Linked DNA regions of Homo sapiens. The protein of the gene in region 5 interacts with the protein of the main gene of each other region in a pairwise test. Each region holds a gene or a part of one and is shown on either strand. Other genes may lie near its edges. The genes, in order: POGZ, NUP54, PRPS1, MKRN2, EIF3F, CASP6 and VEZF1.

What was found.
Region 1: the proteins of EIF3F (region 5) and POGZ interact in binary tests that used the Homo sapiens proteins (3 or more experiments, as listed by UniProt).
Region 2: the proteins of EIF3F (region 5) and NUP54 interact in binary tests that used the Homo sapiens proteins (3 or more experiments, as listed by UniProt).
Region 3: the proteins of EIF3F (region 5) and PRPS1 interact in binary tests that used the Homo sapiens proteins (3 or more experiments, as listed by UniProt).
Region 4: the proteins of EIF3F (region 5) and MKRN2 interact in binary tests that used the Homo sapiens proteins (3 or more experiments, as listed by UniProt).
Region 6: the proteins of EIF3F (region 5) and CASP6 interact in binary tests that used the Homo sapiens proteins (3 or more experiments, as listed by UniProt).
Region 7: the proteins of EIF3F (region 5) and VEZF1 interact in binary tests that used the Homo sapiens proteins (3 or more experiments, as listed by UniProt).

The regions. Positions count from the first base shown.
Region 1 is NC_000001.11:151,407,495-151,410,994, reverse strand, and holds part of POGZ (pogo transposable element with ZNF domain), read left to right. Parts: intron 1-2,166; coding exon 2,167-2,301; intron 2,302-2,413; coding exon 2,414-2,586; intron 2,587-2,754; coding exon 2,755-2,895; intron 2,896-3,500. UniProt on the Homo sapiens protein: Plays a role in mitotic cell cycle progression and is involved in kinetochore assembly and mitotic sister chromatid cohesion.
Region 2 is NC_000004.12:76,131,398-76,134,897, reverse strand, and holds part of NUP54 (nucleoporin p54), read left to right. Parts: intron 1-535; coding exon 536-723; intron 724-2,178; coding exon 2,179-2,375; intron 2,376-3,500. UniProt on the Homo sapiens protein: Component of the nuclear pore complex, a complex required for the trafficking across the nuclear membrane.
Region 3 is NC_000023.11:107,645,510-107,648,517, forward strand, and holds part of PRPS1 (ribose-phosphate pyrophosphokinase 1), read left to right. Parts: intron 1-2,096; coding exon 2,097-2,256; intron 2,257-3,008. UniProt on the Homo sapiens protein: Catalyzes the synthesis of phosphoribosylpyrophosphate (PRPP) that is essential for nucleotide synthesis.
Region 4 is NC_000003.12:12,570,587-12,574,086, forward strand, and holds part of MKRN2 (E3 ubiquitin-protein ligase makorin-2), read left to right. Parts: intron 1-1,482; coding exon 1,483-1,787; intron 1,788-3,500. UniProt on the Homo sapiens protein: E3 ubiquitin ligase catalyzing the covalent attachment of ubiquitin moieties onto substrate proteins.
Region 5 is NC_000011.10:7,997,337-7,999,844, forward strand, and holds part of EIF3F (eukaryotic translation initiation factor 3 subunit F), read left to right. Parts: 3' UTR 1-2,508. UniProt on the Homo sapiens protein: Component of the eukaryotic translation initiation factor 3 (eIF-3) complex, which is required for several steps in the initiation of protein synthesis.
Region 6 is NC_000004.12:109,693,446-109,696,945, reverse strand, and holds part of CASP6 (caspase-6 isoform alpha precursor), read left to right. Parts: intron 1-459; coding exon 460-536; intron 537-2,245; coding exon 2,246-2,421; intron 2,422-3,500.
Region 7 is NC_000017.11:57,971,255-57,974,754, reverse strand, and holds the end of VEZF1 (vascular endothelial zinc finger 1), read left to right. Parts: coding exon 1-282; 3' UTR 283-3,203; downstream 3,204-3,500. UniProt on the Homo sapiens protein: Possible transcription factor. Specifically binds to the CT/GC-rich region of the interleukin-3 promoter and mediates tax transactivation of IL-3.

The DNA.
Region 1 (3,500 bases), on a different chromosome or scaffold from region 5:
CAGTAGTTTAGGTGAGAGATGATAGTGGCTATTGGCTTTTGAAATAAAAAGAGGGTAGAGTTGAGAGATATTCAGAAGATTTGTGATATTTATGATGTAGAGATGGATTAGGTGAAGGTAGCAATGCAGTAGTTAAGAATAGTGCCTAAGATTCTGTCTTGGGCAGTTGGGTGAATGAGGGAACTATTTGCTGAAATAGAAACAATAGAGAAAGTATATTTGTGAGGGGGGAGATCATGAGCTTGGATATTGTAAGTTAGCAGTATCTGTGGATGTCAAGTGTAGCTGTTGGATAATAGATCTCAAGCCTGTGAGAGAACTCTGGGTTGTAGAAAAGATTTAGGAATCAGCGTTATATAAATCCTATAGATTTTAAACTTAAATACCATGGGCCCCCCAACCCTGTTGAGAATAAGAGAAGGCTTAGGATATTTGAAGTCCCTTATCTATAAAGCAACCACCATAGTACTAGGAGGAAAACCAGAAGAGTCTTAACCTTAAGGAAACTGGGGAGAAGAAAGTGTTTTAAAGAAAAGGGTGTGATCAAAATGTCATATGTTACAGGAAGGTGTCAAGCAACATAGAGACTTAGAAACAGGCCTTTAATTTAGCAACATTGATGAGAGCCATTTTGTTGGTTGGTAGGGTGGAAGTCACATTTCAGCAGAACAAATGAATGAGAGGTAAGGAAATGAAGACGATGTATTTAAAGAAGTTTATTTATAAAAAGGGAGGACCCAGGGTAGGTAAATCCAGAGGAAGAAGTGGCAAAGAAGAGTTTTTTATTGCTTTTATTTTCCTTATAAGATGAAAAGCTATGACTTCGTTTTAAAATACTACAAGAAGAGAGCCACTAGAGGAGAGTGAAAGGTATATAGTATATAAGAGAGGATTCAAAATGGAGAATAAGATGAGTGCATGTGTGCTTAATAGTCACATACATATGCACACAAACATATGTACCCTATTACACTCATAGTCTCCTTTGCACAGTAGTGACTGCTGATTGTCTACCACAACTGTATTTCCAAATAGGGGCATGGAAATTGTCTCTTAGCCTAAGCTTACAGAGCTTTGTTATCCTACTAAAGAAAATCATAGACATGGGTTCTATTTTTGAAGGACTTCAATACTAGGCAGACTGAATCCTCAAAGTGGTCTCACCAGGAGACATATCTGTATATACTGATGTGTTAAGTGAGAAAACAGCAAGGTATAGACAAGTGCTATCATTTGTGTTAAAAGGAGAAAAAGAAGAGGGCTGAGGTGGGAGGATCACTTGAGCCCAGGAGGTGGAGTCCAGCCTGGGCAACATGGTGAGACAACATCTCTACAAAAAGGAAAGGGAAAAAAGTAAGGGCCAGGCACAGTGATGCACGCCTGTAATCCCAACACTTTGGGAGGCCAAGGCAGGTAGATCACTTGAACCCAGGAGTTGAAGACCAGCCTGGGCAACATGGTGACACCCCGTCTCTACAAAAAAATACAAAAAGTAGCCGGGCGTGGTGGCACGTGCCTGTAGTCCCAGCTACTTGGGACGTGCAGTGAGCTATGAACATGCCACTGCACTCCAGCCTGGGCTACAGAGAGAGACCCTGTCTCAAAAAAAGGGGGCGAGGCAGGTAATGATTGGATATGAATGTATTTGTGATACAGTTATATGTGTAGACTGCCCACGAAAGCATACTCAGGAAACTGGTAATAAGTTGTTTGTATGGAAGGGGACTGAGTGTTGGAGTTGAAAGCAAAGTTGGAAGAGTATAGAAAAAAAAGTATGACTTTAGTTTACTATGTACATTGTCCTTTTTTAAAAAAAGAAGAATGAAGAATGTCCAGAAGAATGTCCAGTTGTCAGCAGTGTAAAGATATAATACAAATAAAGGTTACATCACTCATTCAAATTGTTAAAACAAGTCAGGAAAGGATGATTTGAGAACTTAGTCATCCTGGACTAGAATCCATCTTTCTTTGATATCATGGGAGGTGATGATTCTCAATGGTAGGTTTTGTGGTCATGTTGCATATTTCTTTCTTACTCTCTTAAATTATCAACAGAAAGGTGGGAAGAATGATATGGTTGACATTGATCTGCTTTCTCCTCAAAAAAGAAAATTTATTAGGAACCTTTAAGGGATTTTGTCTCTTTTTTTCCCTCCCCCACTTCAGAAGAGAAATGTTTATCACTGCAACAAATGCCGGCTGCAGTTTCTCTTTGCCAAGGACAAAATTGAACACAAGCTTCAACACCATAAAACCTTCCGTAAACCCAAGCAGCTGGAGGGCTTGAAACCAGGCACCAAGGTAAAGAGTTTGCCAGTGTCTTTTATAGGCCCAGGGAGGGAGGAATAGAGATTTTCAGTATTCTGAAATTTAGTGTGGGTGATGTCTCATTGTTACTTCCCTTGGTTCTCAGGTGACAATCCGGGCTTCCCGAGGGCAGCCACGAACTGTTCCTGTATCCTCTAATGATACACCTCCCAGCGCCTTGCAGGAGGCAGCACCGCTGACCTCCTCAATGGACCCTCTGCCTGTCTTCCTTTATCCCCCTGTCCAGCGCAGCATCCAGAAGAGAGCTGTTAGGAAAATGTCAGCGCCTTCTTCTAAGTGCTGGGCGGGTGGGGACTGGGTGGCCAGGATTATTCCTGATACACAGTGCAATCTGGTAGCTTTTTAGCAGGGTTTGTTGTCTGAAAATCCTACATTTTGGGGACCCATGAGGCAGTAATGAGAATTCTTTTTTTTTTTCCCCCACAGGAGTGTCATGGGCCGGCAGACATGCCTGGAGTGCAGCTTCGAGATCCCAGACTTCCCTAATCATTTCCCTACTTACGTACACTGCTCTCTGTGTCGCTATAGCACCTGCTGTTCTCGAGCTTATGCCAACCACATGATCAAGTAAGTTGGTTTTTAACCAGTGTTTTAGCTTGAGAGTTCAGATTCTTTTTTTCTTCTTCTTCTTCTTCTTTTTTTTTTTTTTTTTTTGAAGACAGGGTCTCACTCTGTCCCCTAGGCTGGAGTGCAATAGCATGATCTTGGCTCACTGCAACCTCTGCCTCCTGGGTTCAAGTGATTCTCCTGTCTCAGCCTCCCAAGTAGCTGGGATTATAGGTGTGCACCACCATGCCTGGCTGATTTTTTTGTATTTTTAGTAGAGACGGGGTTTCACCTTGTTGGCCAGGCTGGTCTCAAACTCCTGAGCTCAGGTGATCCACCTGCCTCGGCCTCCCTAAAGTGCTGGGATTACAGACATGAGCCACTGCGCCCGGCCCCAGCCAGATTCTTGAGCACTCATTTCATTTTCTCCCCTGCTTCTAATATGTTTCCTCCTTCAACTCTTAGAGCTATTTGTTCTTCTCTCCTAGCAGAGTGAGAGGCTCTGTTTTTTCGGTTTTGATGGTCTGTGCTCTAATTTCATAGGGCCTTGCTATTCAAGTACCAGTAGTATTAGGTGGGAGCTTGTTAGAAATGCTGACTCTCAGCCCCGCCCTAGGCCTACTGAA
Region 2 (3,500 bases), on a different chromosome or scaffold from region 5:
GTACAATTGGGCAGAATAATCTAACATCAAGTCCATCTTATAATAATAATAATTTTATAATAAAAACTAAAAGATCAGAATTCCATGTATGGTTTACATGTATGTATATATGAATGCGTATTGCTTTCACACCCTATAAAATGGAAAAATCATAAGTTGAGAATCTGTATAGTGAAATAAATTATAATTAGTTGGTGATTTTTGCAGTCACTTTTATAATGACATGCAGATGGTTCAGAAACAACCAACAATAATGAATATCAAAATTTTTTAGGGGAGAAAGCTGTTTAGTTACTCTCTCAAAGAGGAAATGTTAATCTTACTCTATAGGTTAATGTTATTCCTGGGTAAAATAGTTTTTCTTTATAATTTTGTGACCTCCTAGGGCACAAAATGGTGGGAAGAATCATTATTCCCTTAATTACCAGACATTAAGTTGTTTTTCCCATTTTAGCAGATATTAAGCTATTAATATTAAACACCTGATTTAAGATCTGTACATATTTTTTATATTGTTTATTTTGTCATTCCACAGGCAGTAGGTTATAGTTGCATGCCCAGTAATAAAGATGAAGATGGGCTAGTGGTTTTAGTTTTCAACAAAAAAGAAACAGAGATTCGAAGCCAACAACAACAGTTGGTAGAATCATTGCATAAAGTTTTGGGAGGAAACCAGACCCTTACTGTAAATGTAGAGGGCACTAAAACATTGCCAGATGATCAGTAAGTATACATAAATATACTGTTTATTTCTGTGTATTTATTTCTGGTCCTAAGGGAGTGATCAATAATGTTTTTGTTGCTAAAGCACAAATTAACTCTCAGAGCAGAATGCCTTTTCTCAGCTAGTGATTATTCAGTATTGATAAAAACATTTATTTAAAAGTTTTTTTAAAATTTTGGATTTTTTAACTTACTAGATGCTAATAATTTTCTAGATTTTCATTCAGGCCAGGAAGGGACCATTTGTCATAGATGCGTGCAAATTGAGGGCCATAAAGATGTTATTGGAAAATGTTATTAACTCATTACTGTTCATGTTCATTCATGAATAAATATTATTGCTTTACTTCCCTTGACCTAAGTATAATTCTCAGTGTTAGTGGCAAGACATTTATTTTAGGATATTTGGAGGAATGATTATTAATGAGATGCAATAATTGAACAGATTTTACTTGTGGTTGTAATTGCAGAGAAGCAGCCCATAAATTTCAACAGAATTTCCTATAGTAAATAACATTTACATAGGATTTTGCAACTAAGCAAACCCTTTTATAAATATTATCTTATTGGCCGGGCACGGTGGCTCACGCCTGTAATCCCAGCACTTTGGGAGGCCGAGACGGGCGGATCATGAGGTCAGGAGATCGAGGCCATCCTGGCTGACACGGTGAAACCCTGTCTCTACTAAAAATACAAAAAAAATCAGCCGGGCGTGGTGGCAGGTGCCTGTAGTCCCAGCTACGAGGGAGGCTGAGGCAGGAGAGTGGCATGAACCCAGGAGGCGGAGCTTGCAGTGAGCCAAGATTGAGCCACTGAACTCCAGCCTGAGGGACAGAGAGAGACTCCGTCTCAAAAAAAAAAACAAATACTATCTTATTTACCTGGTTCTTTTTAACTTTATCATTTAGGTTGATTTGTAAATGAACATTACATGAAGTAAAACTTTCTTATTTTCCAAGATTTAAGAAGAAAACAGTTGGGCACAGCAGCTCATCATACCTGTAATCCCAGAACTTTGGGAGGTCAAGGTGGGAGGATTGCTTGAGACCAGGAGTTTGAGACTAGCCTAGGCAACATAGCGAGTGTCCGTCTCTCAAAAAAATTTAAAAATATATATATATATATATCATATATATTTATGTATAGACACACATACATGTAAGCTAAACGTAGCGGGTGTGCAGCTGTACTCTCAGTTACTTGGAGGCTGAGGTGGGAGAATTGCTTAAGCCTGGGACATTGAGGCTGCAGTGATGATACCACTGCACTCCAGCCTGGGCAACAGAGCAAACCTTGCTCAAAAAAAAAAAAAAAGGAAACATTTTAATTGCCTCCTAAAACAACCATTTCTGAATTCAACTTAAACCCTTCTGAAATCACATGCTATGATATGCTGAGGTTTGTCGCTATGAGTTTTGTGCTCCATATTTTATAAATTGGTTATTCTTCCTTCAGGACAGAAGTTGTTATTTATGTTGTTGAGCGTTCGCCAAATGGTACTTCAAGAAGAGTTCCAGCTACAACGCTATATGCCCATTTTGAACAAGCCAATATAAAAACACAATTGCAGCAACTTGGTGTAACCCTTTCTATGACTAGAACAGAACTTTCTCCTGCACAGATCAAACAGCTTTTACAGAATCCTCCTGCTGGTATGTTTCTAGAATCACAGAGTTCAAAAAAAAAGAAAGATTTAGAACTAAACACTCCCCGTATTTCAGAGGTGTTGGTTGGTTATTAATGCTAATAAAATTAGTATCATCTTGTCATATATCTACTTATTTGGGAAATAGTTTTGAATATTTGTATTCATTTAGTTTTTTATTATATAGCTAATATGTATATGTTAAAATAGAAATTTTGAGAAATAGTGAACTGAAGAAAAATAGTCCATAATCCATCTACCCAAAGGTAATTTACTAGTAAAATTTTGGCTTATTTTTTTCTAGCTTATCTCATTTTAACTGAATATTCAAGTAAAACCTGAATGTATTCTAACTGTAAAATATTCTGGATGGCATAACTAGATTGACTATGTGATAGATTACCTTTAGTTCCTTTCCCCGGAAGTAACTACTGTCAATTTATGGTACTATGTTTAATCCTTTATCTGTGATTTGAAATGTAAGCATATTTACATGTAGATCTTTTAAAAAAGGATTCTCCATATACACCTTCAGCTTGCCTTTTTACAGTATTCCTTAGCACTTTTCATGTCAATACATGAAGATAAATCTTACTGTATTTAAACATTGCATAGTATTCCATGGATACACCTTTACTTAACACCTCTAAGTTGTTTTCTTTTTACTATTATAAACTGTACAGTAATTAACAATATCCTTGTAAACATGTCTTAGAACACATTGGTATATATTTCTTTAGAATAGATCTCTGGTAATGAAATTTTTGAGTCAATATTATGTATGTTAGATATTGCCAAATTGCCCTCCAGGGAAAGTTCTACCGTTTATATTCATAACAGGAATGTTATTTTTTCTGGCCACTGATGGCAAAATAATTAATTTAAAAATTAATACTTATTTTTAATATGTTTATTAGCTACATTTATATTTTTTGTGAGTTACCTATTTGTGTCCTTTGCCCATTTTCTAGATTTTTTTGTCTTCCTTTTTGATGTATAGGAACTCTTTCTATATTCTGGAGGTTAATCTATTATCCTATAGGTTATAGATAGTTCCTTTCAATCTGTGCTTTTTTTGAACTTTATTTATTCTGCAAAAATTTGTATTTTTACCATGATTATATTTGACAGT
Region 3 (3,008 bases), on a different chromosome or scaffold from region 5:
TGTTGAGTACTCTTATTTTTTTTTCAGATTTTCTTATTTTTTAAATTTATATTGTACTAAGCTACATATAACACAATTTGCCATTTTAACTATTTTAAGTGTATAATTCCATGACATTAACTATATTCACAATGTTAGACAACCATCGCCTGATCATCAAAGTTTTTTGATCACCCTGAGTATGCTACATGCGATTGTTTTTTGTTTTAATGAGTTAAAATAAAAATCCTGAGCAGACAGGTGTGTGTGCTCATATTTTTATTTTACCTAAGCCGGAACCCTTGGTCTTACTTCTCGACTGTTTTACCGGCTGCTACTTTTGTTCATTATTACTTCTTTTTTTCACTCTAATCCTGTGATAGGTTAATGTTTATATTACTTGTCATCTCTTGCCTGCAGTGTTCTAAATTGCCTCCCCACTCTGTTCTCCATTGCCAGTCACCGTTCTCTCACCTCCCCACTCCATCTCTCCATGCTTGCTAATCTTCCTGCAACTGAGGCTCGATCCCATCACTCTTTAAGATTTTAAGTGGCCCCTCATTACTAACAATCCAAGCCACTATGAGCAGCATTGTTTCTTAGAATGGTATTTTTACTTTTATTTTTATTTTGAGACATGGTCTCACTCTGTTACCCAGGCTGGAGTGTAGTAGTACAATTACGGCTCACTGCAGTCTTGAAATCTTGGGCTCAAGAAATCCTCCTGTCTCAGACTCCCGAGTAGCTGGGACTACAGGCAAGTGCCACCACACTTGGGTAATTATTTATTATTATTATTATTATTTTTGTAGAGAAGGAGTCCCACTATGTTGCCCAGGCTGTCCTTGAACTCCTGGGCTCAAGCAATTCTCCCACCTCAGCCTCCCAAAGTGCTGGGATTTCAGCTGTGAGCCACAGCACCCAGCCCTGAGAATGGTTTTTTTAAACTTTCTTGTGTCTGTGCCTTGCACAGTGCCTGGCACATAATAGGTGCTAAAAAAAAATTGGGGTGAATGATTCTTGGTTTGGGATCCTGGAGTAAACATTCATAAAACCCATTTCATCCTTGTACAAGTACGGGAATACTAGTCGCTATAACAGATCAACTCCCTAACATGATAGTTTCCTTCTTGTCCATGGCACACTCCAATGCAAGTGTTCTTGTTGGACTCATTTTTTCTAAGCAATAGTTAGGAGCTCAGATTCTTTCAATCTTTGGTGCTATATCTTTAACATGGGGTTTCCAAGATTACCTTGGAAGACATTTCAATTTTGGCCAGCCAGAAAAGGAAAAGAACACAGAGGATCACCCCTGGAAGATTTTTGTTAAGTCCAACCAAAAACTGATGTACATTGTGTCTGCCCACATTTTAATAGCCAGAATTAAGCCACATGGCCACACTGAACTATGTGAGGGAGGCTGGGAAATGTAGTTCAGCTATGTGCCCAGAAAGAAGAGGAAGTGGATTTTGTTAAGTGCAACAGTCTATGCCAGAGTCCTTTGACACTAATTCAGACCTATTCAGATAAGTTCTTAGTGCAGTTCTTTCTCGATATGGACTGAATTGTGTCCTCCCCAAATTCATATATGTTGAGGCCTAACCCCAATGTGATGGTATTTGGAGTTACCTTGAGGGGCACGTATTTAGGATTAGATGAGGTCACTAGGGCAGAGCCCTTACAATGGGATGAATGCCCTTATAAGAAGAGAATGCTGGAGAACTGGCCAGCATTTCCCCATGCGCACGCATGCGTGCACACACACTCACACTCACACACAAAGAGGTCATCTGAGCACACAGCAAAGTGGTGGCCACCTACAAGAGAAGAGGCCTCAGCATGACACCTACTTTGTCTGCACCTTGATCTTGGACTTTAAGCCTCCAGAACTGTGAAAAATTTGTTTCTGTTATTTAAGCCACCCATTCTATGGTATTTTCTTTTCCTTAAAAAAATTTTTCCCCTAACCCACTGTGCCTTATAATATTTTTTATTTTTTTATTTTTTTTCATATGATATTTTGTTGTGGAAGCCTAAGCAGGCTAATATACTCCTCCCTGACTAAAATTCTGCAATGACAAGTAAGATGAATCCAAATCAACATTTTTTCCCTCTAGACTTCTCTCAGCTGGCGCCACCAGAGTTTATGCCATCTTGACTCATGGAATCTTCTCCGGTCCTGCTATTTCTCGCATCAACAACGCATGCTTTGAGGCAGTAGTAGTCACCAATACCATACCTCAGGAGGACAAGATGAAGCATTGCTCCAAAATACAGGTGAGGATGAGATTTGTGCAAAACAAGACTTTTCTAAGTGTTTAGGAGGTGGTTACTTACGTTGAATTAGGTCTCTGGATTCTGAAGATATCTTTCTTTGGTCTGAAGGATTTAGTCTTGTCATCAGAATTTGTGATCCAAAAGTTAACAATCACCTGTTTCTTTTCCTTTTTTTTTTTCTTTTCAAACTGCCAAGCCTTGGGAAAATCACCTGTTTAAAAGTTTAAATTGCTACACCTCAGAATCTCTGGAAGATGGAGCCTAAGATTCTACATTTTAACAGGTTCTCCCAGTGATTCTGATGCAAATTAAAGTTTTCAAGTCCATACTTTACAGTATGTGTTTGTCTGTTAACTATCGGCCCCTGTAGATATAATGTGAAACCTTTAAACTGATTGTACACTTCTACCAACTTTAGTGTTTCTCAGTGTGCTCTGGACCTAAGGTTCTTATTAAAATGTAGATTCCTTTGCTCCATCTAAGACCTATAAAACCAGAGGTCCTGGAACCAGTATTTTAAAGTAATTCCCCAAGTAATTGTTAGAAACTAAAGTTTGAGTGCTCTTGCACTAAAAGAACAAGGCCTTGCTTAATTAAAAATGTTCACATTAATCTATGAGCTTTTTGAAATTAATATGTGTAATTGGAGGATTATCATCTTTTTTTTTTTTTTTTTTGAGATAGGATCTTGCTCTGTTGCCCCAGCCGGAGTGCGCAATCAAAGCTCACTGCAGCCTCAACTTTGAAGGCTC
Region 4 (3,500 bases), on a different chromosome or scaffold from region 5:
AATATTTTGTCTGGGTAAAGTGGCTCACACCTATAACCCCAACACTTTGGGAGGCTGAGGCGGGTGGATCACCTGAGGTCAGGAGTTCGAGACCAGCCTGGCCAACATGGTTTAGTAGAAACCCTGTCTCTACTAAAAATACAAAAATTAGCCGGGTGTAGTGGCAGGTGTCTGTAATCCCAGCTACTTGGGAGGCTGAGGCAGGAGAATTTCTTGAACCCGGGAGGCAAAGATTGTAGTGAGCTGAGATCACGCCACTGCACTCCAGCCTGGATGACAAGAGTGAGACTCCCTCTCAAAAAAAAAAAAAAAAAAAAGAAAACTAAATATTTTGCTAAAGAGCATGTTTCACTGTTTGACTTTTAGGCCAGTGAATGGTCTTAGTTTTTATGCTGACAGTGTTTGACAGTTTAGATTGCACCTTTGGGAAAAGAATAGCACACTAGGGTTTGGGGCATGGTCTGTGCCTTAAAACAGGGTTTGATGAGGAAGAAAGCTACAAATTGTAAAAGTTTTTTTGTTGTGTTTTTTGTTTGTTTTGTTTTTGTTTTTTTTTTGGAGATGGAGACTCGCTCTGTCGCCTAGGCTGCAGTGCAGTGGCATGATCTCCACCTCCCGGGTTCAAGGGATTCTCTTGCCTCAGCCTTCTGAGTAGCTGGGAATACAGGTGCCCACCACCATGCCCAGCTAATTTTTGTATTTTTAGTAGAGACAGTGTTTCACTATGTTGGCCAGGCTGGTCTCAAACTCTTGGTCTCATGATCCGCCCGCCTCGGCCTCCCAAAGTGCTGGGATTACAGGCAAGAGCCACTGCACCTGGCCATAAAAGTTGTTTTTATTGGCTGGTCCTCACCAGGTGAAGAGATTTCTAGTTCTTGGAATTGGCTACCATGAGGTAGGCAGATTCTGTCCTCAGCAAATGAGTAATCCTGTGAGAATACGTGACCTCTAAACAAGCTCGGAGGTGTGCAGTGGGAAGGCAGCAGCTCCTGGCGTGAGAAGGGGTGACCATGGGGCAGTTTACACTGGCCTCAGGACCCACAGATTTGCTCTAGACATCTATTCTAGTTCACTTAAAATGATTTTACCTTTGCTGGTATGAAGGAAACACTGTGTTCTAGTGCTCTCACTGTTTTTTTGTTTGTTTTAGTGTTAACTGGTCCATGTGTTAACATTTCCATATTTGCCATTTTAAACGGCTTTAGTGTTCTTTTGTATAAGTATATCCTATTGTTTTGCTATTTCCCTGTCTTGCCATTTTTGTTTTTTGTTTTTTGTTTTTTTAAGTAATTATAAGTAATGTCACTATGAACATTTTATACTATTCCTTTTATTTTTCCCCTTCGGTGTGTTTTTTTTGCCATATGTTCTCAAGAGTGGAATTCTTAGGTCAGAGTAGCTTAATATGTTAGGCTTTGGCTAACGGCATACCAGAAAAATGGGGCCATTTTCATGTGCATGTGTGCTGTGTGTTGTTTTCAGATCTCTCTGGCATGGCTGAAAGGAAGACCCAGCCGAGCATGGTGAGTAATCCAGGCAGCTGCAGCGACCCCCAGCCCAGCCCCGAGATGAAGCCGCATTCCTACCTGGATGCCATCAGGAGTGGCCTTGATGACGTGGAGGCCAGCAGCTCCTACAGCAACGAGCAGCAGCTGTGCCCCTACGCAGCTGCTGGGGAGTGCCGGTTTGGGGATGCCTGTGTCTACCTGCACGGGGAGGTGTGTGAAATCTGTAGGCTGCAAGTCTTGCACCCATTCGACCCAGAGCAGAGGAAGGCTCATGAAAAGGTAAAGTCACAAACCTTTGCATGAACTCATGTTAAGAAATCTGAAATGTACTGAACAGGACACGGAAGGCCATCCATATACACTCAAGAAATCTGAAATGTACTAAGTGACAGAATTGTTGGTATTTCCACAGGCATCCCCCTGCCAGTAATACCCATATTATGTATCTGGTATATTTACATCCTGTTTTCAGGTTCTTTTTCCTGCAGTCATTTTGCCATTTTTTTTTTTTAATGGAGTCTCCCTCTCACCCAGGCTGGAGTACAGTGGTGCAATCTCGGCTCACTGCAACCTCTGCTTCCCTGGCTCAGGTGATCCTCCTGCCTCAGCCCCACCGAGTAGCTGGGATTACAGGCGCCCACCACCACACCCGGCTACTTTTTGTATTTTTAGGAAAGATGGGGTTTCACCACGTTGGCCAGGCTGGTCTCGAACTCCTGACCTCAAGTTGTCCGCCTGCCTTGGCCTCCCAAAGTGCTGGGATTACAGGCATGAGCCACCATGCCCGGCCTATTTTGCCAATTTTTAATTACTCAGAATAAAGAGAAAAAGAAGTCGTATCTGAAATATAAAATCATGCTAAGTTCAAAGAACAGATCTAGCTCAGGACCATGGTATGTCGTCTGTGTGTATGTCTCTATCACATGCAGATACAGCATCCTCCCTCCCTGGGTTCACACTTCCTCATGGTTGGGATCCAGCTAGGTGAAGTTTTGGAAGATTTGAGCCCAAATCATAGAATCTGAGGAGCCACTTGTTGGAAGGGCCTTTTAAAGTCATTAATGTCTGCAGTGTTTTGGGAGGCTTTGCCTTATGCTAGGCCCTATGCATGATGCAGAGGGTACGAAGCTGGATAAGAGGCGGGGGAGGGCCAGGCATGGTGACTCACACCTGTAATCCCAGCACTTTGGCAGGCCAAGGCAGGCAGATTGCTTGACCCCAGGAGTTTGAGACCAGCCTGGGCAACATGGTAAGATCCCCGTCTCTACAAAAAAAAAAAAATACAAACATTAGCCAGGTGTGGTGGTGCACACCTGTAGTCCCAGCTACTCGGCAGGACTGAGGTGGGAGGATCACCCGAGCCTGGGAAGCAGAGGTTGCAGTGAGCCAAGATTGTGCCACTGCACTACAGCCTGGGCAATAAGAGTGAGACCCTGTCTCAAGAAAAATAATAATAAAAAAATTTAAAAATGCCAGGTGTGGTGGCTTGGCTAACTTTTAAAATTTTATTTTATTTTGGCTGGGCACAGTGGCTCACGCCTGTAATCCCAGCACTTTGGGAGGACGAGGCAGGCGGATCACAAGGTCAGGAGATTGAGACCATCCTGGCTAACATGGTGAAACCCCGTCTCTACTAAAAATACAAAAAGTTAACTGGGTGTGGTGGCGGGCGCCTGTAGTCCCAGCTACTTGGGAGGCTGAGGCAGGAGAATAGTCTGAACCCAGGAGGTGGAGCTTGCAGCGAGCTGAGATTGCACCACCGCACTCCAGCCTGGACGACAGAGAGAGACTCTGTCTCAAAAAAAAAAAAAAATTATTTTATTTTTCAGAGGTGAGGTCTTGCTATGTTGCTTAGGCTGGTCTTGAACTCCTGAGATCAAGCAGTCCTCTTACCATGGCCTCCCAGAGTAATGGGATTACAGGTGTGAGCCACTGCACCTGGCCTAAGGCATGTTTAAATGGACAGCGTATTCCTAGATAATCAAGAGGTAA
Region 5 (2,508 bases):
AGTCTTTTTAAGTATGCATGATAAAATTCCGAGGTTAATTGCTAGAAGTATATATAATCTCTCAATGAATAGTGATGAGAGATGGTGGGATAATAGGGAAGAAACAAAATTTTAAATTTGAGAAATAAGCATAGAAAAGGTGGATAAAACAAAAGATGGCAAAACAAGTCCAAATAGATCAGTAATTACAATAAATGTATAAGTATTAAACTAGCCCAAGGAAAAATTGAATATTAAAACAAACCCCAATCATATGCTGTTTACAGGAGACACATCTAAAACAAGGACATAAAGTTGTCCTGCAGCTGTGAGTAACAATATAGGTGAATGTTAATAATAATGTTGAATGAAAAAAGCTGGTGTCAGAAGACATGTACATTATGATACTCCAGAAGTTCAAAAACAAGTGAAACTTGTTTAGACATGCGGTTGGCTGTCTGTATATGTGGGTTCCACATCTATGGACTCAACCAACTACAGGTTGAAAATATTGAGGGGGAAAATTGTGTCTGGACTAAACCTGTACAGACATTTTTCCTTGTCATTTTTCCCTAAACAATACAAAGTATTAGATGGTGTTTATACTGTATTCGGTATTATAAGTAATCTAGAGATGACTTAAAAGTATATGAGAAGGTATGCACAGGTTATATCCAAATACTTCATATTAGGGACTTGAGCATCAGAGGATTTTTATATCCAAGGAAGGTTCTGGAACCAATCCTCCACGGATACTAAACGGTGACTGTGTGTGTATATATATATGTATAGTCTGTTCTCATTATCTATAGTAGTTATGTTTTATAAAGTCACCATGAACACTGAATTAGAGAGTACTGAACCATTATTCCCAAGGGAAATACAGGGTTGGGTTCCTATGAACCTCTGGGCACAGTTTCATCAACCCATCAGTACATAAACTTGTTACATGTGTTTCTGTTTGAAGACACCTTAGTATATATGGTTGACCCATTAACACTGAACTTAGCCCACGACACTTATTCCTGAATGAAGCTTACCTCAGTTTCTCCAGGCGGCACATCACAGTCTTCTTGCACTTAGGAACACTTGGCACTGTGCGTGGGGGTCACTTTAAGCAGCAAAATCCACAAAAATGCAAAAGACATGGCACTAAATAGACTGAAAAGGATACTTGTTTATAAGAACTGAAACAAGAAGGCCTTGTTCCACCTCAGCTGGGAACATGGAGAGCAGGCAATTCAAATTTTTTCACATGCTGCATGTCCGCAAATGGCTGCAAAAGCCCAGCAAGTACTGATACTGGAGTTAGAAATAAATTTTAGCAAGAGGTAAATTCACACATACGGAGTCTGCAAAAAATGAGAATTGACTATTATGTGTGTGTATATTATATATATGATAAAAAACAAAAGAATGATAAAAATTCCCAATAATGTTTACTTTGGTGGTGAGAAGAGGATGGCAAGTAAAATAAGTCTGTATTGTTATCAGCAATTATCTAGTTTGAGGTTGGACAGTGGTTTCATCATAGGTATTGATTATATTATAAATAGCCCAACCTGAACTCATGACCATAGTGTGGTGTTATTACTTAGCGTTATTCTAGACTTATTAGCCATTGTATTTAAACAAGAGGAAATAGAGACATTGAAGATAAAGTGGAGCCAGGCACAGTGGCTCATGCCTGTAATCCCAGCACTTTGGCAGGCTGAGATGGGTTAATCAAGACCAGAAGTTCAAGACCAGCGTGGCCAACATGGCAAAACCCCGTCTCTACTAAAAAAAAACAAAAAATACAAAAATTAGCCAGGCGTGGTGGCACGCACCTGTAGTCCCAGCTACTTGGGAAGCTGAGGCAGGAGAATCTCGAACCCAGGAGGTAGGGGTTGCAGTGAGCTGAGATCGCACCACTGCACCCCAGCCTGGGTGACAGCAAGATCCTTTCTCAAGAAAAAAAGTGAAAAGGAGGAGGGTTTTTAAAAAATTAGTACTACCCAGTTGATACGGTGGAAGAAAACTTGAAAATGCTAATGAGAAACATGAGATGTAATCACTTGAAGGCATATCATGTTCTTGAATAAGAAGACTCAACATTATTTTAACAGGTGTTAATTTTCCCTGTTAAACTACATATTTGTCATAATTACAATAAAATACAAAGAGCTATTTTGGAACTGGGCAAGCTGTTTCTAAATGTATATGGAAAAATAAAAATGTCTCCAAAAAATCCCTGCAGAGGGAAACTAGCCCTTCCAGATATAAAATATATTATAGAACTGTGTAATTAAAGCAATATGGTACTGGTCCATAAAAGAACATAAAACCAAATAGTTCAGTAGACTCAAAATGCAAGCGTTGGTGAGGGTATGGAGAAAAGGGAACCCTTTTACACTTGGTGTGAATGTAAATTAGTACAGACATTGTGGAAAACAGTTTGTAGAGCTTCCTCAATAAAAACACATATGATCCAGCAATCCCACTACTGGGTATATATCCAAAGGAAATGAAATCAGTATGTTGAAGAGA
Region 6 (3,500 bases), on a different chromosome or scaffold from region 5:
GGCGTGGTGGTGGGAGCCTGTAGTCCCAGCTACTCGGGAGGCTGAGGCAGGAGAATGGCATGAAGCCAGGAGGCGGAGCTTGCAGTGAGCCAAGATCAAGCCACTGCACTCCAGCCTGGGCGACAGAGTGAGCCTCTGTCTCAAAAAAAAAAAAAAAAAAAAAACTTGCCTGAGTTATTTTCCTTACTCTGTTCTATTAAATGTTGACAGGCTTTTGCATTTGTACTAACATTTGCATAGTAGACAACAACACTCTAAATTGAATCGGCTGTCATTATGATTAAATCCTTTCCGACCATGGTGAATGAAGGGAAAACCACCATTGTTATATTTCATTTCTTTTCTCCTAAAGAAAGCAAATTTATGTGTCGTTAAAATGTGTATAGATTCTTCCAAAGTAAGGGTATTTGACAACTTTGAAAAGTTTATAGGCTAACATTTCATTTAATATACCACTAGGTTTTCAGATCTAGGATTTGAAGTGAAATGCTTTAATGATCTTAAAGCAGAAGAACTACTGCTCAAAATTCATGAGGGTAGGTAGTTTTGCTATCATATAGTTCATCTTCCTCTAATGAAACCGAGTCCTTTATCCTATCTGTAAAGACAGGTACAAGTAATTACTTGTGTGACAAAAAAAGTATTAATTTAGCACAGGTTACAGGTTTTGGGTATGCTGCTGTGTTTCCGTTACCCAGCACATTTAGAGACCCTTGCAAATAATTATGCCTCTAAAGTTTATATTTAGCATACCACTAGTTACAGTCTCTTGTAGAAATGAATGAAATGACCCCTTCAATTGGCAGTAAAAGCCTAAAATGCAAGTACTACAGGTGCTGGGCAGTCAACAGGCTCATTTTCTCATTGACTCCTTTCATGCCTCATTTTCTCACTGGTTTCCAAATAGTGTTGGTTTACATACATTACCTCCTTTAATTCTCACAGCGTCAATAGGGGGTAGGTATTCTAATTATAACAACCTATATTATAATCATCGCTGCATGCCAACCATTATATTTGCATAATTACTTTAAACTTTCTTCAGAGCTCTTCTTTAAACTGCACATCATTCTAACTTTGGCTGCTTTTACCAGCTTTTCTACTTTGCTCAGAAGCTTTGGAGGACATCAGTCTCATGGCACCGCACCTGGCTTTGAGTACTCTTTTGGAAGCTCTAAGTGCTATAATCTTTTTTTTTTTTTTTTGAGATGGAGTCTCGCTGTCCGCCCCAGGCTGGAGTGCAGTGGTGTGATCTCAGCTCACTGCAGCCTCCACCTCCTGGGTTCAAGCAATTCTCCTGCCTCAGCTTCCCAGGTAGCTCGCCCCCATGCCCAGCTAATTTTTGTATTTTTAGTAGAGATGGGGTTTCACCGTGTTGGCCAGGCTGGTCTTGAACACTGGCCTCAAGTGATCCACCTGCCTCGGCCTCCCAAAATGCTGGGATTCCAGGCGTGAGCCACTGCGCCTGGCCCTAAGTGCTGTATTCCTATAGTGAAAGTGCAGCAATGCGTGGGGAGCTGTTGAGCAGCAGTTTCTGGGTCTTTCCACTCTGCTCTAAGGTCTCTGCTGATTCAAGGAAATTTTTAGTTTATTGCCAAAATAACTTGGATCTTAAGTGAGATTCCCTATCGTAATCCCTTTATGTTTTCCACATCATTCTGTGTTTTAGAAAGGCTAATGAAATTTGGTCAAACTCTATTACTCTGAACTTTAATAAATTTGGATTTTTTTAAAAAAATAAGATACAGTACGGTATATTGTTTGATTAAAGACTAAGTTGTTTCATCACAGATATTTTACACTTATTAAAGAGTAGGCCGGGCATGGTGGCTCATGCCTGTAATCCCAGCACTTTGGGAGGCTGAGGCGAGGTGGATCACCTGAGGTCAGGAGTTCGAGACTAGCCTGGCTACATGGCAAAACCCCGTCTCTACTAAAAATACAAAAATTAGCTGGATATGGTTTCAAATCTGTAATCCCAGCTACTTGGGAGGCTGAGGCAGGAGAATCGCTTGAACCCGGGAGGTGGAGGTTGCAGTGAGCCAAGATCGCGCCACTGCACTCCAGCCCTGGGCACCAAGAGTGAAACTCTGTCTCAAAAAAACAAAAAAGACAAAACCACAAATTTTCCTCCTCCCCAATCATGTGGATGTAACTTTATTCTTGTGTTAATAAACTGAATTTTTATGTGTAGATAACAAGCATCATATTTTCATTTCTATATTCTCTTTTGGGTCCTTTATAGTGTCAACTGTTAGCCACGCAGATGCCGATTGCTTTGTGTGTGTCTTCCTGAGCCATGGCGAAGGCAATCACATTTATGCATATGATGCTAAAATCGAAATTCAGACATTAACTGGCTTGTTCAAAGGAGACAAGTGTCACAGCCTGGTTGGAAAACCCAAGATATTTATCATTCAGGTAAGACTGAGTACATTATCATCTTAATTATAAAGTCTGTCATTCTGAACATGTGATAAAGGTCTAAAAGCCAGTTTTGAAAGTAACTTTCTCCAGTAATTGGACAGGCCGTTTTTGAATTCTGGCCAATCATAGTTGCACTTTGAGCTGTTAGTAATAATTCTTTGACACTCTCATTGTCTATATTACAAAATAACAGCATTTGGATTGAGATTTGAAGTGACTCACAAAGTAACCAATGTGCTACTCCCTGTCCGAGCCTGATACCAAGGAGAGCCATTGGAAAGCGTACCTGCTGATTGAAGAGTGCCGCACAAGGCAACCTCATCAGACTAGGTTTGCTTCTTTGGGAGGTGGAGAGCATATAAACCAGTGGAAAGAATGGAAAAATAAAGCCTTCTAGTCTTATCCTGTCTCATCCCTTTCACATTGCCCCTTAAACCAAGATTGTTTCCCCGCTGCCAAATTGGTTTTAGGGATAAAAGTATTTTTTACAGGCGTGATGGCTCACACCTGTAATCCCAGCACTTTGGGAGGCCGAGGCAGGCAGATCACCTGAGGAGTTCAAGACCAGCCTGGCAAACATGGTGAAACCCTGTCTCTACTAAAAATACAAAAATTAGCTGGGCATGGTGGCAGGTGCCTGTAATCCCAGCCATTCGGGAAGCTGAGGCATGAGAATTGCTTGAACCTGGGAGGCAGAGGCTGTAGTTAGCCGAGAGCATACCACTGCACTCCAGCCTGGGCGTCAGAGCGAGACTCTGTCTAAAAAAAAAAAAAAATTTTTTTTTTTGCATGAATATTACTTGGCACATCATTAACGATTTTTTTTTTTTTTTTGAGATGGAGTCTCGCTCTGTCCCCCAGGCTGGAGTGCAATGGTGCAATCTCGGCTCACTGCAACCTCCGCCCCCAGGTTCAATTATTCTCCCACTTCAGCCTCCCGAGTAGCTGGGATTACAGGCACCTGCCATCATGGCTGGCTAATTTTTGTATTTTCATAGAGATGGGGTTTCACCATGTTGGCTAGTGTGGTCTTGAACTCCTGACCTCAGGTGATCTGCCCGCCTTGGCCTCCC
Region 7 (3,500 bases), on a different chromosome or scaffold from region 5:
AATGTTTCAAGTGCAGTTAACATAACCAGCCCAATGAACATAGGGCATCCTGTAACTATAACCAGTCCATTATCCATGACCTCTCCTTTAACACTCACTACCCCAGTCAACCTCCCCACCCCCGTCACTGCCCCAGTGAATATAGCACACCCTGTCACCATCACATCTCCAATGAATCTACCCACACCTATGACATTAGCCGCCCCTCTCAATATAGCAATGAGACCTGTAGAGAGCATGCCTTTCTTGCCCCAAGCTTTGCCTACATCACCGCCTTGGTAAACAGTATTATAAAATCAAAATATGGGTAAAAGTAAATATTTACCAGCAACTTAACTTTTAGTTGATTAAAGCAAAAAGTAAACCATGAAATTGGGAGATTTTATTACATTAGTTAATAAGAGTGTGGTAGCATTTTTCTCCAATTTGGCTGGGATTATTCAAAGTAGGGTGTGTATGTAACTTATCACTGGACCACTTTAGTTTAATCAGAAATTCCTTTTAGCTGACAACATTGCTTAAACAGGATAGTAGTTGGCAAGATGAAATGCCAGAATTAAAACCAATCATAAGTAGAACCCACTTCAAAATAAAAAAACAGCATTACTATTTCTAATCCCAAGGAATCACTTTATTGTAAACACTAGCAGAACTCTTCTCCCTATACAAGGTGGATGGCTGATTTTAACCTGAAATTTTAAATCCACAGATTGAGAGCTAGTGTAGAATTGTCTGTGTTTATTGTTTTTATGAGTAAATACATGCATTGTCATAATAAAATGCATTTCAGAGAATATGCATTTTACCTTTGGGAATATGTTAATTTCAGGCAGCATTCCCTATGGGAAAGGTGATACCAGCTCTGATATGCAAAGCATATGATAATTTATCATTCTAACTTCAACGTATAATAGGGATTGTGACCTGATATTTGGAGATGTAAATATTGCTCAGCATATTAATCCCGATGGAATATAGCATTGTAGTTGACTTTTTAAAAAAAAAAAAAATTTAAAAAAAATCTACAAATTGTGTTTTGCTAAGAAAAGCCTCAACTGACAGAGGAGAAGTCAAGTGTGTGGACAGGCAAGCTCCTAATAAACAGAGTCCAGTGGGATTCCTATTTAGGAGCCAAGGAGTACTTTGGAACAGTACAAATATATTGCTTTAAATTGGAAGACGCTGGAGGCACTGGGATGTGATATGCCCCTCTCTCTCCCAATCAGAGCCTGTTGATATTACAACAGGGACAGATGTGTTAGTTGCTCACTAGAGTTTATGTCTTATATTAAATTGTATACAGTTTTTATTCTAACCACTAACTAGGTAGTGTATGCCCCTTCAGAACATGCAGAGTGTATCTTTTTTTAAATTTCTCCTTCCGTTTCTTAAGTATTGCGCAGATTTGTTCAACTTTGTAAATATGGACATCACTTTTTTTTTCTTTGAGAAAACACTTGTATCAGCTTTGTGGTGTTTTCAGGGAGACAGCTGTCTGCATTCCCTGTAGAAACCCAGCAATGATTATGCACGTTGAGACATGTGCTTTTTATTTCTTAGCAAGATATTTTATCTCTGTACATAAAGTAGAAACCAAAAGCTAGGGAAACAGATACTCTTTACACCATCATGCCACGCATTGTTTTTAAAGCATTGCGTTAAAAAAAAAATTAACTAAACCAAGATGCTGTGATTTTTTAAGTTGCAATATGTTTTTGGTTTTTTTCATTTTTTAATCATTGCAGTTAAGAGAAATGGAAATTAGTTGTGTTAATCTTGCAGAATGTTTGCAGGACTGACTATCAAACTGGATGATTTCCATTTATACCCTACTGTGTCAGTTCAAGCATCAAAATACCTTGCATCTGAGACAGACTTCCTACATCAGGGACAGGTATCTGTGTGTCATTATACAAAACAGTTCTAGGGGGTTGAACTACATAGTAAAAAAATAAAATAAATAGTACTTAGTGTAAAATAATTTTATAAATGATCTTTTGTACTTTAGGACATTAAATTGTACAACTTTTGTATATATAAAAGCTTAGGAACTTTCTGTTTAGCAGGAAGGCAACACATTCCTACACTTTTAATGTATATGTTTGTTATAATGTCCATGTAAACATGCCCTATGTTTGTGCCTTTTAATTAGTTTGTCTCAATAAACAAAATGTAGAGAAAAATATGTAGCTATGACTTTGTTACAACTGTTCTTATCCACAGTACAAAAATGGTTTGTTTTTAATATGTAGAGCATTATGTGTGGACTACTGGAAGGACTCGTGTAGGGAAAGCCCAAGAATGACCTTGCTGAGGCCTGGATTGGGAGGCACAGTGGCCACATTTGGAGGAAGTTCACATTTCCTGGCATGCAGACCCAAAACTGGGTTCTGGCTCTGCCTGCTGGGATCTGTTATCTCTGGTGGGCTGGCAGTCATAATTCACAATTCAGACAGCCCAGGCTTCCTCCACAGTGGTCCAAGGAGCAGTCCTCAGTGGGGGCAGGTGTGGGCCCTACCCCTAAGCTAGAATGTGGTTGTCAGAACCCTGAAAGTATTAGTTCTAAAAAAAAAAAGATATATACTAGAAGTAATTGTTTTATCAATTCATTGTATAATAAACAGGAGTGAGACTTCATTGTATGACTTCAGTTAAAATACTATTTTGTATGCATTCTTTATTCACTTAAGAAGCTTGTCTGCAATAATAAAGCCACGTCATGTCTTCTTTTGGGAGGGAGAGAGTCGATGGCAGGAGGGGGTTTTGGGTGGGCCACTGAAAAGGGGTACCGAATAGGTTGTGTGATGAAATTCTGTGTCTTGGAACTGGAATTGAGTTTCGATGTTGATGAACTGATTCAACCAGGTGTTGAAGGCACGACAGCCACTGCTCTACGAAAAGGCAGAGTACGTTTTTCCCTTCTGGTTGTAACCTGGTTGAGAGCTTCCCCTTTATCAGATTGGCAGCTAAACAGTTGTATTAGATAATCCTTAAATCTGACATCCAGCCTGTTACGCTCTAGGGCTCGCTGCTTGGCCTGCGTTTGCTTTTTATTGTGTATCCGTTCCCCTCCTACGGTGTGCTCCTGAATGAAGGTTTCTATGTAAGCAGATGATGATTTTACCTGTCAATACCAGCACTGTATTACTAACATGCAAAATACTGCAGATTTATTTTGAAAATTAAAGTTAACTGGTCACAAATGTTATGATGGATTGTTTAATACCTCAGAAGCTTCATCAGTTTGCTCTGATAATAGAGGAATTTTTCAAGTACTTTCTTTTCAGGTGCGCACATCTCAGTATTGGGTTGGAGAGAGAGGGAGGGACCAGTATCAGGCTGGTTGGAGGGTGGAAGGGCACCAGACTGACTGCCCTTGGTAGGTGCACCCTCCCAAGCAGCTCAGGTAAGGCCCAGGAAGCTAGGATGGAGGCAGTGGCCACAGGTTTAGGTCCCTGTCCTACCCAAAAGAGAAGATGGGTTTAAAACATTTCTTCTCA